2 linked regions of the Homo sapiens genome follow. The protein of the gene in region 1 interacts with the protein of each later gene in a biochemical or structural test. Each region holds a gene or a part of one and is shown in the gene's direction. Other genes may lie near its edges.

Region 1 (9,204 bases):
TATGGAAAGTAAGAAATAGGTTGTTTCCCATAAATATTGGGAAATTTTGAAGAGTCAAGAAACATACATACACATTATGTAAAAAGAAAAAAGATTGTCAGATAGGATCAAAAGATTGTTGGGTTGCTTTCAGGATTGTTGCATTTGGATCACTTCTTCATAAATAGGAAGATGTTAGCTTGAGGAACCTTGGAAGTTAATTGTTATAGGAGTAATTCTATACCTTTCATTCCTTCAATCCTTCCTTCATTCATTCAACAAATATTTATTTAGTATTTACCATTAATAGAGCAATGTTTTGGTTTTGAAGTCACAGCACTGAAGAGGGGACAAGATCCTTGTGCTCAGAAAATTGACATTCTTGTTGGGAAGACATATGCAGACAAACAAGAGAAGTCAGAAATGGTAGTTTCTCTACCATGTAGAGAATTAGAATGGGTGACCAGAGATTCGAAGCACTTTGGATGAGGTGGTCCTTGAAGGCCTCTCTAAGGAGGTGACCTTAAGGGAATAATCTGAATGACACAAAATTAACTATGAGATTTCAGGAGAAAGCATTCCCTAAATAGGAACTGGTTGGTGTACAGGCAGGAACAGGTTTTGTGCAACTGAGAAAAGTCCAGAGCAGCTGGGGCATAGTGGGTCAAGGGGAGGATATTCTAAGTGGAAAGCAGAGAAGCAGGCAGGCCCAGATCAGCAGGGCGTGTAAGCCAGGATAAGGTATTTGGATTTCATTGTGATGATAATGGAAGCTACAATCTAGGAGGGCAGTGACATTTTTGATTTGCATTTTAAAAAGTCGTCCCTGGCTTCTGTGTAATGAATGGATTACAGAGAAGCCAAAGTAAAAGGCGGGAGACCAACTAGAAGACTATTCTAGTAGTCTTGACAGGAGATGAAGGGGCTATAAACTAGGGTGAAAGTGGCAAGAAGTGTCAGATTTGGGATATATTTTGGAGGTGGATTTGTCAGGATATCCTGATGGATTCGCTGGAAGGAGGAGAAGTGGTGAGATAAAGAGATTTTTGGTTTGAATCAACTAAGTATCTTGTAGTGATACATATGGAGACAGGAAAACTGGTGACGATGTTTTGAGGATAAAAATGAAACAGTTTTGTTTGGGCCATGTTACGTTTGATATGCTCACTAGACATCCAAGAAGAAATATGAAGTAGATGATTTTTTTTTTTTTTTGAGATGGAATCTCGCTCTATTGCCCAGGCTGGTGTGCAGTGGCACGATCTCGGCTCACCACAATCTCCGTCTCCTGGGGTCAAGCCATTCTCCTGCCTCAGCTTCCCCAGTAGCTGGGATTACAGATGTGCACCACCATGCCGGGCTAATTTTTGTATTTTGAGTACAGACAGGGTTTCACCATGTTGGCTAAGCTGGTTTTGAACTCCTGACCTCGTGATCCACCCACCTCGGCCTCCCAAAGTGCTGGGATTACAGGTGTGAGCCACCGTAGCTGGCCTGATAAATGAAATTAAAAGTCAGGGGACTAGTTGAGATTACTTCTAGGCTGAGTATGACAGATAAAAGCAAGGGCCCCAGAACAGAGTAGGGGCACTCCAACATTAAGATACGCAGTAGAGAAGCCATCAGACATAGAGGGAATGGGCAATGAGGAGAAAAACCAGAAAGTATAGTGTCAAGGAAGCCAAGAGAATAAAGTAACTCAAGGAGAGAGTGGCCAACTGTTTTCTATATAGGAAACAGTCGAAGTCGAAACAACAAAGTAGTCACTGGAATAGGAAACATGCAGGTCATTAGTGATCATAAGAACAGCCTTATTGGAGTCAGTGGGACACAGGCTACAGAGGCTTGATTGGAATGGGTCGAGAAGAAAATATACAGTAAGAAAGTGCAGCAACTATAGATGTGTAGGCCATCTTGAAGATCTTGAGAAAGAAGACAGAAATAAAGTGTAACAGGAATGCTGCTGGGCAACTGTTAAAGGAGTAATTACATACCTTTCATTCCTTCAATCCTTCCTTCATTCGTTCAACAAATATTTATTTAGTGCTTACCATGAATTGAGCAATGTTTTAGTTTTGGGGTCACAGCACTGAATGGGGGACAAGATCCTTGTGCTCAGAAAATTGATATTCTTGTTGTGGAGACATATGCCTGAGATCTGTGGTTATTAATGCAGAATGAGCCCAACAACCCCAGTTATATATGTGTATCTCTAGTGATATTTAGACACTTTCCTATTCATATATATATACGTATTAGATGAAGTCTCACTCTGTTGCCCAGGCTGGAGTGCAATGGCGTGATCTCAGCTCACTGCAACCTCCATCCACCTCCTGCCTTCAAGTGATTCTCGTGCCTCAGCCTCCCCAGTAGCTGGGACTACAGACGTGCGCCACCACGTCCGGCTAATTTTTGTATTTTCAGTAGAGACAGGGTTTCACCATGTTCACCAGACTGGTCTTGAACTCCTGACCTCAGGTGATCCACGCCCCTCACCTCCCAAAGTGCTGGGATTACAGGTGTGAGCCACTGTGCCCAGCCTTCTATTCCTATGGATCCTGTGCAGCAGAGAGTAGGTGGTTAATTGAACTTAACCAGGGTTTGGCCTCTGCTAGACAAAAGCAATGGAGGAAGAGAAAGGTGAAGAAGTGGCCGGGTATGGTGTCTCATGTTTGTAATCCTAGCATTTTGGGAGGCAGAGGTGGGTGGATTACCCGAGCTCAGGAGTTTGAGACCAGCCTGGGCAACATGGTGAAACCCCATCTCCACTAAAATACAAAAAATTAGCTGGGCATGGTGGTGGGTGCCTGTAGTCCCAGCTACTTGGGAGGCTGAGGCAGGAGAATTGCTTGAACCCAGGAGGCACAGATTGCAGTGAGATTGCACACTGCACTCCAGCCTGGGCGACAGACTACATCTAAAAAAAAAAAAAAAAAAAAAAAAAAAAAGAAAGGTGAAGAAGTTAAGCATATTTGCAAAGGGAAGATTGTAAAGTTGGACCATGGGCTTTAGGTTGGGTTTTGATGGAAACGAGTAGGCTAGGGAAATGACTGATATTAAGAAAGTAAGAAGGGCCAATGGATTTGAGGTCTTGCTGGGGATCAAAGTAAATAGATGGTGGGGGAATATTAATGCACAAGAGCTGAACGGATGGGAATTAGTGGTCAGACAGGGTAAGCAGAACTGCTATGTATAGGAAGCTGCTAGATTAGTGAAGGGTATTCTTACATGGTTAGCTCTCACCCACTGCTTATTTTCTTTTGGAGTAATTAAGTTCTCCAGTGTATTATCCCAGTGATGGAGTTATCATGAACTGTGCAGGGGAGTACACAGATTTTCCAATAATCCATCTAGCTCAGCTGTAGATGAGAGCCTATTATATTATTCAAAGGATTCTACATGAGAATTCCAGTAAAGAAGGTCTTAGCATGTAACATTAATAAGCAGTTTTAAACTTTTTTTTTTTTTTTTAAAGACAGGGTCTCATTTTGTCACCCAGGATGGAGTACAGTGGTGAGATCATAGCTCACTGCATTCTCAACCTCCCTGGGCTCAGGTGATCCTCTCACCTCAGCCTCCTGAGTAGCTAGGAACACAGGCGCATGCCACCACACCCAGCTAATATTTTTTTAGACGAGTTGTTGCCATGTTGTCCAGGTTGGTCTGAAACTCCTGAGCTCAAGCAATCTGTCTGCTTCCGTCTCCCGAAGTGCTGGGATTACAGGCATAAAATCAGTGTGCCTGACCCTAAACTAATTTTTGAAAAACAAACAAAAAAGAGAAAAAAAGTCACTTTTATCACCCCATGTCGCTGAGAATGTTTCCCATATTGTCTGAAAATAAAGCACCTCATGTTTAGAAAGATGGAAAAGTATGTTCTTTGTAAGTGCATTATCACTAGTGATTACTCATATATTAGCTGTAGGCATGACCGTGCTGCTGCACCATCGAGAGACACACACACACATAATAAAAAACCAAATATATTTGGGATAGAAATATCATATTACATTATATAATGCATTATACTTTACAAAACATTTTCCTATTCATTAACTGATTTGCAAATAATATTTAATTTTGTGCTGCTTTTCAAAAGATCTGGAAGTGCTTTCCAAAAAGCACTCCATTCATTGCTTCATAGGCTTCATTCAGTGGTCTGTTGGTTTTTTCTTTTTTTTTTTTTTTCCCTCCCAGCAAGGTTAGTTCCATTATTCCCTCTCCTTCCCTATTCAAGCAATATTAAAGGCTTCTCTTTTTCTACCAGGGTGTTAAGTTGAGCCTCTTGGCTGTGAATATTGGCAGAATGGTAGGACGCAGAAGCTGTGATTTCTCGAGTTAAATAATGACATCGTGCCTGGAGGTCAGTTCAAAGACCACGTCGTTTTGGCACGATATTTATCTGTGACCTCATTTTCTTCTTAATCTATAAAACAGAGGCGTTAATGACAATTTACTTCATAAATCGATTATCAGAATAGGACTTAAAATTCCTTAGGAGGTCAAGCACGGGCTTTAGAAAGTGCAACATGTGAACATCAGCCTATTAAAAATTGTTTTGATCTAGAAAAGACAACCTCAAACTTCTCTTGCCAATTCAAATTCCAGCTTCTTCCTACCCTTCTTTTCTAAATCTTTGCTTTCTCTTTGGCTGAAATTAGAAGCAGGAAGGGAGCAGGGAAAGGAAACCTGGGACTGGAAAAGGGCAGGGAAGCCCAACAGACCGGTTAAGCACGTCTGAGATTCTCTAGTCGGCTTCAACCCAGGGGCTAAGAGGCAGAGTCAGCGTTTCCAGCAGAAACTAGCATATAGCTCAGGCTCAATACCACGTCGAGTCAGGAGCCATCGCCGGAAGGGTCACACCGACACATTTTACAAAACAGCCTAAGGCGTCCCCTCCTCCCGCCTGGGTCAGGGAGGGACACCCCCAGGGGTCCTCGCCCGCCTCCCACTAGCGGGCACGCGGTCGTCGCGCGGGCGCGGCCCTCTGACGGAGCCCAGGCGTGCACTCCGCAGCCTCGGCGTCCCCCAGCTAGCCGGAAGAAGCTGCGGCGACAGCGTCCTGCCGCCTGTCTGTCACGCAGCCGCCCACGTTGCCACCGCTTCCGATTGGTCGCTGGCCTGGACCGGCCCCCTTCAGCCCCGCCTCCCGCGAATGGACAGGCGAGGGGCGGGCCCGCCACCGCCCCGCCCCCCGGCGGCCGCGGGCGGGCCCGCCCATCTGTCAGTTACGGGGGCTGCCCGGCGGGCGGGCTGGAGGCGCTCGCAGGCTGCCTAGTCGTTCGCTCGCTCTCTCTCGCGTGCTCCCTCTCGCCGCCTGTGGGGAAGTCGGGGCCGCCCGAGCGGCCGTCGCCACCGCCTCGCCCCGACCTCCTTCCCGGTCCCCTCCCGGCCCAGTCCCTCCCGCCCGCGCACCCCGAGTAGTGAGTGGCCCCGCGCAGGGTCTGGAGAGTCACCGCGGCGGCGCCGGGTGGTGGTTAAACCATGTTAAGGAGGATTTTACAGAGGGTAAGAGAGTGAAACCGTCTTTCTGGCAGCACGTGAGCGGGACAGCCGGAGCTCGGGGCCGCGGCGCGGGCGCCCCTCCTCAGCGCGGGCTCCTTCCTTCCCTAGGCCCCACAGCCCGGCAGGCGCTTAGGCCTCGGTCGCCCGGCCCGGGGGCGGGGAGGGCGGGTGGGGCCGGCGCGGCGGGGCGGCAGGCAGAGCCCTGGTGGCCCCGCGCGTCCAGGCCTGGCGCCCGCTCCGGCGCGGGGCTCCGTGTGTGCGAGCGGGCTGCGAGCTGGAGGGTGTGGTGCCGGCGCGTTCCTCCCGGGAACCCTGAGTGGGAGTGAAAATGGAGAGTTGGTGCCCGTGGGACGGGCCAGCCGCCGCCTGCCGGGCTGGAGAACGCCCCATGGGAGATTCGGGCGGCTTGCTTCGCCTTTCCCCACCCGCCGCACTCCCCGTGCCCCCCAATTTGACACGATGCGCACCTGCCACACACGGCCCTGCTTTCTCCTTTGGACCACAGTGGAGGGTGGTGTGGTGAGCCCCGGCCTAGCCTGGGCCCAGGCGTGGGACTGACACTGGCACAGTCAGCCGAGAAGGAAGATGTTACTCACTGTTGGAAACTTTTTTTTTAATTAAAAATATGTTTTCTGTGCAAGCCCCACTACCTTATTTTAGCTATCCAAGAATAAATCCGCAGTAAGCTTGATCAAGTGGTATATACACTTAGTTTCTGCCTGTGCTGTCTCTGAAATCTGGAAAACCTTGAGGATAGAAAGATTAGAGCATTAGAAAACTGTAGGTGTATCATTTAAGAATCAGTTACTAGAATAACATAATTCACATCTCTTTTCCTGTAAGAGTTATTGTACCTGTCAACTTAAATTTGTTTTTTTTTTTTGGTATAGCTTTTTTCTTTTCTTTTTGAGGCTGATAGGGTGTAACAAAATGTAAATGATTGAAAAGTAGGTGCCGAGCCTATTAGTTCTTTACCGAGGGAGTAGGATAACTAGTTCAAAGGACAAAAGAAATTAGTGAATTTGTAGGATTCAGCCGAGGAATGTGCGGAAGAGAGTTGAGTCATCCAGTAGATAGGAAGGGAGTGCTCTTGCTTCTGCCTAGCTTTCTCCTGAAAGAATGAAGTCATGTGAAACTTGGTCAGTTATTAGAGGGAGAAATAGTTAACTTCTTTATCTGACAACCTGTGTTGACATTTAATTGTATTTTGCAGTGTTTTGTGAATTTTGAAATCCCGGTAAGCGATGATTTTGGCAGTAACAAGGGCATGTCCTTTACTTTCCCCATCACTTCCTTAGTTCAGCAGTAAAGACATCTGTGCATGATTTACTTTCAGGCTTTAGGAGATTTTTCTTTTATCAGACCTGGAGGAACTGATTACCTCATGTTTCAGATTGTGTTTCTGTCATAGTTCTGCAAGTGAAAATTAGTTTGCCTGTGGTTTGCTTTGAAGTTTACAAATAAAAGTGTTTACTGGTTTAAGGGTAGCTCAGCTGTAGTTATAGATTGGTTTTCAGAAATATGGGATGCTTTCTAGTAATCTTGGTTTAAAGTTAAACATCGAGATTATATGAAGATCATTTTTAATGTTGGTGCATACCTATCAACTGTTAAAGAAGCTTCTGTTGAAACTACAAAAGTGAAATTGATTGTGGTTATTGCAGAGATGTGATATTGAATCATCACTTCTGAATAAGTCAGTTGACAACTGAGTTTCTTAACGTCGGCGCTATTGGCATTTGTGACTGGATAATTCTGCGTTGTGGGAGGCTGCCCTGTGCCTTGTAAGATGTTAGCAGCATCCCTGGCATCTACCCCCACTAGATGCCAGTAGCATTCCCCTATATCCCTTCCCCCTTGTGACAACCAAAAATAGCTCCAGATTTTACCAAATGTCCCCTAGGGGCAAAATTGCCTCTGGTTGAGAATCACTGTGTTAAATGCATTAACTCTTTAGTAGGAAAGTTTGAAGTGTTTCTCACAGTTAAGTACTTAATTTTCTTTTATTCAGTGTATTTATATTGAGTTTCAGTAAATGCCAGGCTTCATGCTAAGGGGTAGGAAACAGTTGATTAAGCTGTGGGTCCTCCCTTTAGAACTCACAGGCTGTTTGGGAGGTGAACATTTAAAAGTAATGACAGTGCTATGTAATAGAATAATGAAGAGGACAGAGGACCCAGGAGGCACTCTGTGGGAGGTGAGGGCAATTAGGAAAAGCTTCAGGGACGGGGGCATATTCACAGCTCAGAAGAGGGAAGGGCATGTCAGGCAGAGGGAACAGCAAATGCAAAGAGATGGAGTCATAAAAGGCGCAGGTAGTACTGTGAGGAGTGTGAACAATGAAGCTTAGGAAGTGAGATGGTCTGTAGCAATTAGTAAGAGATGAAGCTACCGTGGTGGCTAGAGACCAAATTGTGAGAGGACGTAAGAGTCCCTTTGAAGGAGTTCAGCTTTTATCTTGTAGTTGGGTCAGTGTTAATGCTGAGTATTTAATAGGGACATTTTGATAAATGTCTTAAATCTGGTGATTTACTAGTTTAGAAGGTAGAATATATATTTTATTAACTCTACAAGTGGTATTTACCAACAAGTATAACTTGAATCTTTAAATTGTGTAACATGGCAACCTATTTTACCCCTCCCTGCTAATCTTATTTCTCAGCACAGATATTAAGCTATAAGATTAAAGCTATTGTTAATTTAGAGATTTATTTGAAATGGACTCTGTGCTTTGAAATTATGTGGCATTCCTTGGCTGGGTGCAGTGGCTCATTCCTGTAATCCCAGCACTTTGGGAGGCCGAGACGGGCGGATCACCTGAGGTCGGGAGTTCGAGACCAGCCTGACCAACATGGAGAAACCCTGACTCTACTAAAAATACAAAATTAGCCGGGAGTGGTGGTGCATGCCTATAATCCCAGCGACTCAGGAGGCTGAGGTAGGAGAATCACTTGAACCCGGGAGGTGGAGATTGCAGTGAGCTGAGATTGCTCCATTGCACTCCAGCCTGAGCAACAAGACCGGAACTCCGTCTAAAAAAAAAAAAAAAATTATGTGGCATTCCTTTAGCATTTTGTTTTTAGATGAACTTTTCATTTTAACTATTCTTATTTTCTTCTGAATAGTTTCCTTTAAATAGCATTTTTTAAAAGAAGAAACAGACAAACTGCTTACCATCAATTAGAACTCAAAGTGTTTGAACATCATCAATAAGTCTCAGGATACTTTACGGAAATTTGGTTTCTGGTTCTCCTGCTTTTGTCCCTCCTCCTGCTCCTCCTTTTTCATTAGCTTACTAAGGTGTTTCTCTGAGGCTTGAAAGAAGCTGGAAAACAAAAACAAAAAAACCTCAAAACAAAACCAAAGTGAAGTAGCTCCAATATGTATGTATTGAATATTTTACTTAATAGTCCTTCAAAGAAAAACATGAATTTAAAGTACTTGATGGTTAGAAATTTAATCAACGTTTAGTACCTTAGGCAGCTTGTAAACCTTGTTGCCATTTCTTTCTTAAGTATTATAACTTACTGTGGGCTGGCTTAGTGGCTCATGCCTGTAATTCCATCACTTTGGGAAGCCGAGGCGTGCAGATCACTGAGATCAGGAGTTCGAGACCAGCTTGGTCAATGTGGTGAAACCCCGTCACTACCAAAAAATACAAAAATTAGCCGGGCATCGTGGTGCACGCCTGTAGTCCCAACTACTTGGGAGACTGAGGTG
Region 2 (9,116 bases), on another chromosome or scaffold:
TTCACTGAGTACTCCTTTAGCCTTTTCGTGGGTCCCCTGCTTTCCCTCTGTCCATGACATGTCCTCATAGGACCCAGAGGAATCTTCTGGAAACAAAAATCAGCCTGTGTTATTGGCCTGCTTAATATCCTTCAGTGACTTCCCACTGCACCTCTCATAACAGCCACACTCTGAACAGAGACCTCCCAAGCCCCACGTGACTTGCCCAGGCCTCCCCCGGGGCTCCTCTCTTCTCAGGGCCTCCAGCACTCCTTGGCCTCATGCCTCTGGATACGCTGTTCCTTCTCACCAAAACTCTCTGTTCCCTCCACTGGAGCCCAGCTGGCTCCTTTCCCGTCTTTTAGTGTCAGGTTAAATGTGATGCACTCAGAGTTTTCTCTAAACCCCCTGCATCTAAGCAGGGCCCCAACTTTGTTCTTCATTACTGCCCTTACTCATTTTCCTCAGAACATTCATTAAAAATTGTCCTTAGATACCTGTCTACCTACCTTCATTGACAGAATCTCCCATCAGACTGTAACTCCAAGAGCTGGGACCACAGTGTCTTGTTCACTGCTGTACTCCCAGGGCCTAGCATGGTGCCTGACCTAGAGCTGATGTTCAGATATTGGTTGGTTGGATGAATCAGCAAATAAACTCTTTGGAGTATTCCTTTGTATCCTGAAGTCTTTGATTGCTGTCATCCATGGGATTGTCACCTGTTTCCTTACCTGTCTGCCTTTCATTAGACTGTAAGCTCCTTGAGGGCAAGGACTGCCTTCATATCTCTGCTCTCAGCCCCTTGGCACATGGTATTGATGCCCATAGGTTTATGTCTACTGATTGCCAGCCCTACTTAGGCACAGATAAGGACAGCTCCTCTACCTACTTTTACCATGTGAGTAGTGCATGACTCAAATTATAAATTTCTGTTGTTGTATGTTTATTACTCTTTGTAGTTATGACATTTATTATGGAACCAAAATTGTCGTAAAATGAAAACCCTTTTGATGAATTGACCATTCAGACATCCTCCCCAACCTCCCCATTTGACATCTTGTACTGCACATAGTTTTGACAGATGGATTGTCTTTCTGATGGTCCAGCTACGTTTGATTGCAAAGTGATTTCATTAAGTCAATGAAAGTGATTTTGGAGAATTTCTCAAATGTCCTGTGAAGCCCTTGACAGTAGGGATCTTGTTAACTTAAATGAAGAGGAAAAATACTGCTCAGGATGATGATATAAGTGCTTCAGAAGATAATGGTTTGTGTATCAAAGGGTTAAGAGGGGCCTAGGGAAAATTGATGAAGCCCTCAAATATTTTTGTAAAAATTTGTCATTTTTATGATAAGACTATGAAAGTCAAACATGAAATGAAGGATATCGTATTGTGCTAGTATGTAGTTTTATCAGAAAATTCATAGCCAAGTTATCAATCAAGTTCGACTCAGTGTTCATCCAGAAAATTAGCTCCTGGCTGCAATAATAAACCTAAGGTTTTTCAAATACCAGATAAAATTAAACTTGATTTTACAATTTTAAGTTTATCTTCTCAAGATAGAGTCTTTGTGAGACCATTTTGTCCCTATTATTTGCTATCTTGAATGAATGCATTTAAAATCACCCTTTTTCCACCAATTATCTCCTTCAGTAACAAAGACTCCTGCAGTAGCATTGAGACAGACACAACACATATATTAAAAAACCTCATAAATACACCATACCTGTAGTAAGAGCATGTCAAATACTTGCCATCTGTGTGTGATTGTATAAAAGAAAGCTTCTTGGCCAGGCATAGTGGCTCACGCCTGTAATCCCAGCACTTTGGGAGGCCAAGGCAGGCGGATCACCTGAGGTCAGGAGTTCTAGATCAGCCTGGCCAACATGGTGAAACCCCATCTCTACTAAAAATACAAAAATTAGCCAGGCATGGTGGCGCACACCTGTGGTCCCAGCTACTCGGAAGGCTGAGGCAGGAGAATCACTTGATCCCGGGAGGTGGAGGTTGCAGTGAGCCGAGATCGCACCACTGCACTCCAGCCTGGGCCATGGAGTGAGACTCCATCTCAAAAAAAAAAAGCTTCCTAACCAGAGTCTAATAGACATTGCATCCAGTCTTTAAAAATGTACATTCCTGCATCTTAATATGGTTTCTCCCAATGACTGTTTTTACAGAGATCAGAACACTAGGAAGCCTCAGACTTATTTATTGTCACAGTAGTCATGTAAGGAATTGTTCTCCTGTTTAAAATCAAGAACAAGTGTAGTGGCTTAGTATCATCTAGAATTGGGGCAGACAGTCCCAGAAACCAGAGTCTGCAGTGCATCATCCACACTGGCCAGTGCACAGTTACCATCCACATGAAGAGACAAGAAGACCTGACTCCATGAGTAGAAGCAAACCCGAAAGTGATCCCATTATTAGAATTTGCAGACAGAATTTACACATATATTTTTGGGCCACATCCAACCTGCCACCAGTTTTTGTAAATAAAGCTTTCATGGAACATAGCCATGCTTGTTTGTTTATTATCTATGGCAGGGACGTCCAGTCTTTTGGCTTCCCTGGGCCACATTGGAAGAAGAATTGTCTCAGGCTGCATATAAAATACACCAACGATAGCTGATGAGCTTAAAAAAAAAAAATCGCAAAAACAGCTCAGTGTTTTAAGAAAGTTTATGGATTTGTGTTGGGCCACATTCAAAGCTGTCCTGGGCCACATAACAGGCCGCAGGTTAGACAAGCTTGGTCTGTGGCTACCTTCACTCTACAATAGTAGAGTTGAGTAGTTGCAGCAGAGATTATGTGACCCATAAAGCCAAAATATTCACTACCTGGTCTTTACCAGAAAAAGTTTGCCGTCACCTGATCTAGAGCCAGGTTTGGAGCAGAGATGTGCTGACAGCTTTTGAGTCTCTTACATGCCTCCACCTTCTTTCTTTGCATCAAAAGGACATGAAAGTTTCCATGTCAGTAATAGCGAGTGGCTTGCCCTCCCACAGCTAAAAATTATATATAAACTCCAGACAAAGCTTTAAAAAAACAACTGTTTGAAGGCACTGCAGAGCAACCAAATGCAGTCAGGGACTGCAAAGGGGAGCTTTCTTGTGTAAGATCCACATTTTTACAGCTTTTCCCCAGTGGGTATTTCCCAGTTCGAGTGGCACAGGGTAGCTAGTACTTAAGCAGAAAGCTTGTGTTGAGTGCAGAGTTTAGGACTGCTAGAGCAGCCAGAAAAAGAGGAGGCAAATCGCAGAAAAGGGATTCAACAAGGAGGGACCCCCTAAAATCTGTTTATAAATTCCCTGAAGTTTTTTTGACCCCCAAATTGTGAATTCACAAGAGAGACATTATAAAATGCAACAGAAACCAGTAGCTGGCAAGGGTGACAAGACAGCAGAGATTTCAGCTGCTCCTCATTACAGCAGGGCTAGACTTCAAAGTTTGAATCCAATCCTGCTGTGTTACAGGGGATCACTAAACACCTTGGGCATTCCGATGAAACTTCAGAAGAGCCATGCCTTGGGAGTAGAAACCGTGTCCTAGGACTAAGGGCAAATCCAAAAACCCAAGTAGACCAACCAATCTCAGGATGAGTCACCAGTAACTTAATACTCTTCAGAGAAGAAAAAAACCAAGCGTCTACAGTGCATCATCCACACTGTCCAGTGGACAGTCAGCACTACTACACATATGAAGAAACAGGAAGGTGTGACCCAGTGAGTAGAAGCAAACCCTAAAGTGACCCTTTTCTTGGAATTTGCAGACACAGAATTTAAAGCACATATTTTACATATGTTCAGAGATTTAAAGAAAACTAGGCCAGGCACAGTGGCTCATGCCTTTAATCCCAGCACTTTGGAAGGCCGAGACAGGCATATTGCTTGAGTCGAGGAGTTCCAAACCAGCATGGACAACATGGCAAAAGCCCATCTCTTAAGGGAAAAAAAAAAGGAGTGTTAATGACTTAACTGCAAATGGGGAATCTCACATAGAATGGAAACTAATAAAGAATCACATGAAAATGCTAAAACTGAAAGCTGCAATATCTAAGATGAAAAACTCACTGGAGGGTGATAGAACACATTAATCAGAAGAATAGAAAAACAGTAGAAAAATATGGACAGAGTCTCAGTATCATAGGGACAAATTCAAACAGTCTAACGTATGTGTAATTGGAGAGCCAGGAGGAGCAAAGAGAGAGATGGAAACAGAAAAAAAGATTTCAAGAAATAATGGCTGAAAATTTCCCGAATTTAGTGAAACATAACTCACAAATCCAAGAAGTTCAACAAATCTGTAAGTTCAAAGAACACCATATCTAGGTAAGTCGTAGTCAAACTGCTGAAAACCAAAGGTAAAGAGAAAATCTTGAATGCACCCAGAAGTAAAAGACACGTAAACAGGAGAACAACAATATGAATGATGGCTAACTTTACACATAAACGCCGGAGACCAGAAGCCAGAGGAACAGGATCTTTAAAGTGTGGAAAGCAAAAACCTATCAGTTTGCCAAAATTAGTTTTCAAATATAAAGTCAAAGTAAGAACATTTTTAGAAAAACAAAAACAGAAATCAACAGCAGCTGTCCCAGAAGGTTTTTCACACTAAAGGAAAATGACACCACATGGTAATTCAGATCCATAGGAAGAAATAATAGCCACTAGAAATGGCAAATAGAAACGTATGTTTTTTCTTCTTCAATTATTCAAAAGTTAACTAATTCAAAAATTATAACACTGGATTGTATAGTTTATAGCATATATAGATTTAGATTATTTGACAGTGGTAGTACAAAGAATGGTAGGATAACAAGAAATTAGACTTTTGCAAGTCTCTGATATTTTACATGAAGTGGTGCATTTTAAACTAAGTAGACTGTAGAAAAACGTGCAGTAGTCCAGACACAGGGGCTCACACCTGTAATCCCAGCACTTTGAAAGGCCACGACAGGTAGATTTGAGGCCAGGAGTTCAAGATCAGCCTGTCCAACATGGCAAAACCCCATATCTACTAAAAATACAAAAGTTAGCCGGGCATGGTGGCACTTACTGTAATCCCAGCTACTTGGGAGACTGAGGCACAAGAATTGCTTGAACCCGGCAGGCAGAGCTTGCAGTGAGCCAAGAACACACCACTGCACTCCAGCCTGGGTGACAGAGCGAGACTCTGTCTCAAAAAAAAAAAAGAAAAATGTGCAGTATATATTATAGTTACAAAAGCAACAACTTAAAAAATAATACAAGCAAGTACAGTTCAAAAGTCAGTAGAGAAGTTAATATACTAAAATTGAACACTAAGAAAAATTCAAGCAATGCAAAAGAGGAAAAGAACGGAGGAGCAGGAATTTTAAAAGAAATGGAACAGATACAGGCCGGGCATGGTGGCTCACGCCTGTAATCCCAGCACTTTGGGAGGCCGAGGCAGGTGGATCACCTGAAGTCGGGATTTCAAGACCAGACTGACCAACATGGAGAAACCCCATCTCTACTAAAAATACAAAATTAGCCGGGCGTGGTAGCGCATGCCTGTAATCCCAACTGCTAGGGAGGCTGAGGCAGGAGAATGGCTTGAACCCGGGAGGCGGAGGCTGCGGTGAGCCGAGATCACGCCATTGCACTCCAGCCTAGACAACAAGAGCGAAACTCCGTCTCAATGGTAGACCTAAATCCAAATATATTAGTAAATACATTAAATATAAAGGAGCTGAACTGCTGAACCTTCCACTTAAAAGGCAAAGGTTGTCAAAAATCAGGACCCAACTATGTGCTGGTTATAAGAGGACTACTATAAATATAAAAACAAATAAAGAATGCAAAAGGATGTAGTATTCAAATAATAAACAAAAGAGACCCATGTGGTTATATAATATCAGTAAAACAGACATGAAAACAAGGTGGAAGAAGGACATTGTGAGAAGAATATTGAGGAACTTTGTGTTGATAGAACTGTTTGACATCTTAGTGGATGATATTCACACAGATATATACATTTGTCAGTTTATCAAATTAAAATTTAATTTGATAAATTTTAAATTTATCGTAAAACTCAAATTAATACGAAATTTTAAAAGCCAAAAGGTTAAACTCATTGGATAAGCAGTTCCAGAATCCATAGTTCTGTATGTGGTTTATGTATGTGCACCAAATGCTCCCCTGTGATAATCCCTGCCTGTGTTCAGGGGTAAACCACCATTAACAACAGGATGTAAATACAGTGTCATCAGATCATAAGTAGGGGTCAGGCTTCAGAGTCAGGGTGCAAGACGAAAATTAAGTATAGGCAAAATTCTTGTCATTAAACATTGACATCATATCCAGTTGGTGAGATGCTCACATAGGACGTGTGCCCAAGAACTGAGATTGACTGGGCAAAGAGCTTCACAGTCTCCATCTCACACTCATTGAGAGAAATAGCTCACTGAATCACCCTTGCTGTTCAAATGGTTATTCCTCTCCCTTCTCTTTCCTCCCTGTTGTGTGTCACCGGTTGTGGAGGCCAGGGTGACCAGGGTGATGAGTGGGAAGAAGCTGTGTATTCAGGGTTAAATTGATGTAAATGAAATGAGATCTGTACCCAGCATTTGAGAATTGCCACATGCAAGGAGATATCAAAAAAGCAAGTTGCAAACTCATCCAAGTAGTGAATGTAGATGTGTACTCATTTCTGAAGGACAATCAGTGTTCAGATTACAGGGTTTTCTTTATGACACCCAAATGCAGCTACTTCTCTGGAGAACTATTTATAGCATTATTTTTATCTCCCCTGATAGTTAGGGAAGCCAAAGTTTAAAGGACTATTGAACAAATGAATTTGGGAATTATAACATTGAGTTCAATTAAAAAGCCTTTTTAGCTGAAACAATTGTTTATAGCGCCATATTTAATTCCTATAAAACTGTATTCTGAACTATCTTCTGAGAGACATTTCAGTGTTACATTAAAAGTTTTTGCCTTTGGTAATTACTGGTTCATTTGCTTTAAAGCAGCATGTCATTTTCTTGGCTTAAGAGAAAGATTACTTTTTGTGCAGGGATAATGGGCTTATAAATCTAGTATAAAACATATTTAACCAGTTTTCCCAATTTTGTTTATTTTTCCCCCTCCTCTGCAGTTTCGTGCCTTAGCACCAATGTACTATCGAGGGTCGGCTGCAGCTATAATCGTTTATGATATCACAAAAGAAGTAAGACTATATAGTTTTCTTTAGATTGTTTTGAAAACTCTTTTGGTTGCTTAGATCTCCAGTTGCTCTCTTTTTTGTGTGTTACAGGAGACATTTTCAACATTAAAGAATTGGGTGAAAGAGCTTCGACAGCATGGCCCACCTAATATTGTAGTTGCCATTGCAGGAAATAAATGTGATCTTATCGATGTAAGGTAAGTTATTAGAACGAGAGATTACAATACCTATTATGTGTTCCTTTTCTTAATAAGCAATATCCAGTTTAAGAATCTTGCTTTTATTTTATCTCTGACATTGAAAAATTCCTTTTGGTTGTGTGGTTGGAGTCCTAAATTTTTAAACTAAAATTAAGATTTCAGGCATTTGGAGCTAATTATATTATGTATACAGACAGGTGTGCAATTTACGGAAATACTGGTTGCGTTGCATCCAACATTATCTGAGATCAGAGCAGCCCCCAGGCTCCCATGACTTAGAATACTTGAATGCAGAAAGCACATTTATTGGCAGTTTCCCTGGGCCACTTCCATCATTCCCAAAGCAAGGGCTTTTTGAAAATTTTGGCTGGGGAAGAAAACCCTGCCATCCCTAATCATTCCATTAGCTACATTACTAGTGGTACCGAGTTTTGTTTCACTTTGTTTGTTTACCCATGGATGTGGTGTAATCGAGAAGACCATGTCTCAGGGCCCATCCAGCAGCCATTTAGTCCATCCTTTGTCATCATAAATCTGGTTAACTACTGGGTAGGTGGGGGTACAACTAAGATCTTCATGGGTAGAATTTCTGATATGTAGTTGTTGCCTTCCAGAGAAGTCATGGAGAGAGATGCAAAGGACTACGCCGACTCTATTCATGCAATTTTTGTAGAGACCAGCGCAAAAAACGCGATAAACATAAATGAACTCTTTATAGAAATTAGTGAGTATCTCTGTGCCTTATCCATTTCCTCTGTAAAAGCCGCTTAACACAGAATGATCTTCCTGGTTAGAATTCCTGTCTTACTTAGAGCAGTCTAGTCTCTGATATTGTGATCAGTGAAATGAAGTTGGAGAAGGTAAGAGTAATGTCCAGTTTTCATATCATGTTATAGTTGCTGAAGAGCTGCCGCCCTTCTGGAAAGAGTGTTGCTACTGAATAAATAATGCACAGGGTACTGAGGTCATGAAAGCTGTCCCATTTCTTTCTCTATTTAAATATGTTTCTGTTAGTCGTCCAAGGTCATTGAAAATGAACAAAATGAATAAAGGGAAATGAAATGCAGGTATACTTGCACGGTAAGAAAACCCTCAAAAATAATACTAGGCAAGTGAAAGGTAAGACCTGTTTTCCCTTCTCTTTCCCTTCCCTTTCCAGAAGTGTTAATATGATGATACTCGATGGGAGAGGGGCTGCTGCATGCCTTTGGGATCCTCTGCAGATCGTATCTATGTTTATTCATTTCATTCAAATTCATCAAAATATTTATTGGGAGCTGTTCCAGGCTCAGGGGAAATAGCCGTGAAGAAGATAGACGCAGCCCCTGCTCTCCTGGAGCGCACATTCTACAGAGGGAAACAGACAGTGAACACCAAATAAATAGGATCATTTCAGATCATAATAACTGATACAAAGAAAATAATTTAGGATGAAATGAAGGAATGTCTGCAAGCAATTGGGGAAGGTCTCCCTAAGGAGGTGCTATCAGAGCTGAGGTCCAAAGAAGCAGGCCCTGTAGAGGTGTGGGGAGTCACATAAACATGTCAGACTTCCAGGTGGAGAAAAGCAGAAAGCCGTCAGAGCAGGGTGGATGTAGCGTTAAGATCCACCATGTGGTTGAGAGCCAAGGGTACTGAAGCAGGGAGGGTCCTTTGCCATTGTGTCGAGGAGGGGCATGAACTCCAGAGCCCACCAAGGCCAGGCAAGGTTGACCCATGAGCAGAGCAGGCCCAGGTGAAGCCTTGGGAAC

What was found.
Region 2: the proteins of EEA1 (region 1) and RAB22A form a complex in vitro, tested with the Homo sapiens proteins (one study listed by BioGRID).

What each region holds. Positions count from the first base shown.
Region 1 is NC_000012.12:92,925,326-92,934,529, reverse strand, and holds the start of EEA1 (early endosome antigen 1), read left to right. Parts: upstream 1-5,234; 5' UTR 5,235-5,463; coding exon 5,464-5,487; intron 5,488-9,204. UniProt on the Homo sapiens protein: Binds phospholipid vesicles containing phosphatidylinositol 3-phosphate and participates in endosomal trafficking.
Region 2 is NC_000020.11:58,346,177-58,355,292, forward strand, and holds part of RAB22A (ras-related protein Rab-22A), read left to right. Parts: intron 1-7,096; coding exon 7,097-7,168; intron 7,169-7,255; coding exon 7,256-7,362; intron 7,363-7,979; coding exon 7,980-8,089; intron 8,090-9,116. UniProt on the Homo sapiens protein: Plays a role in endocytosis and intracellular protein transport. Mediates trafficking of TF from early endosomes to recycling endosomes. Required for NGF-mediated endocytosis of NTRK1, and subsequent neurite outgrowth.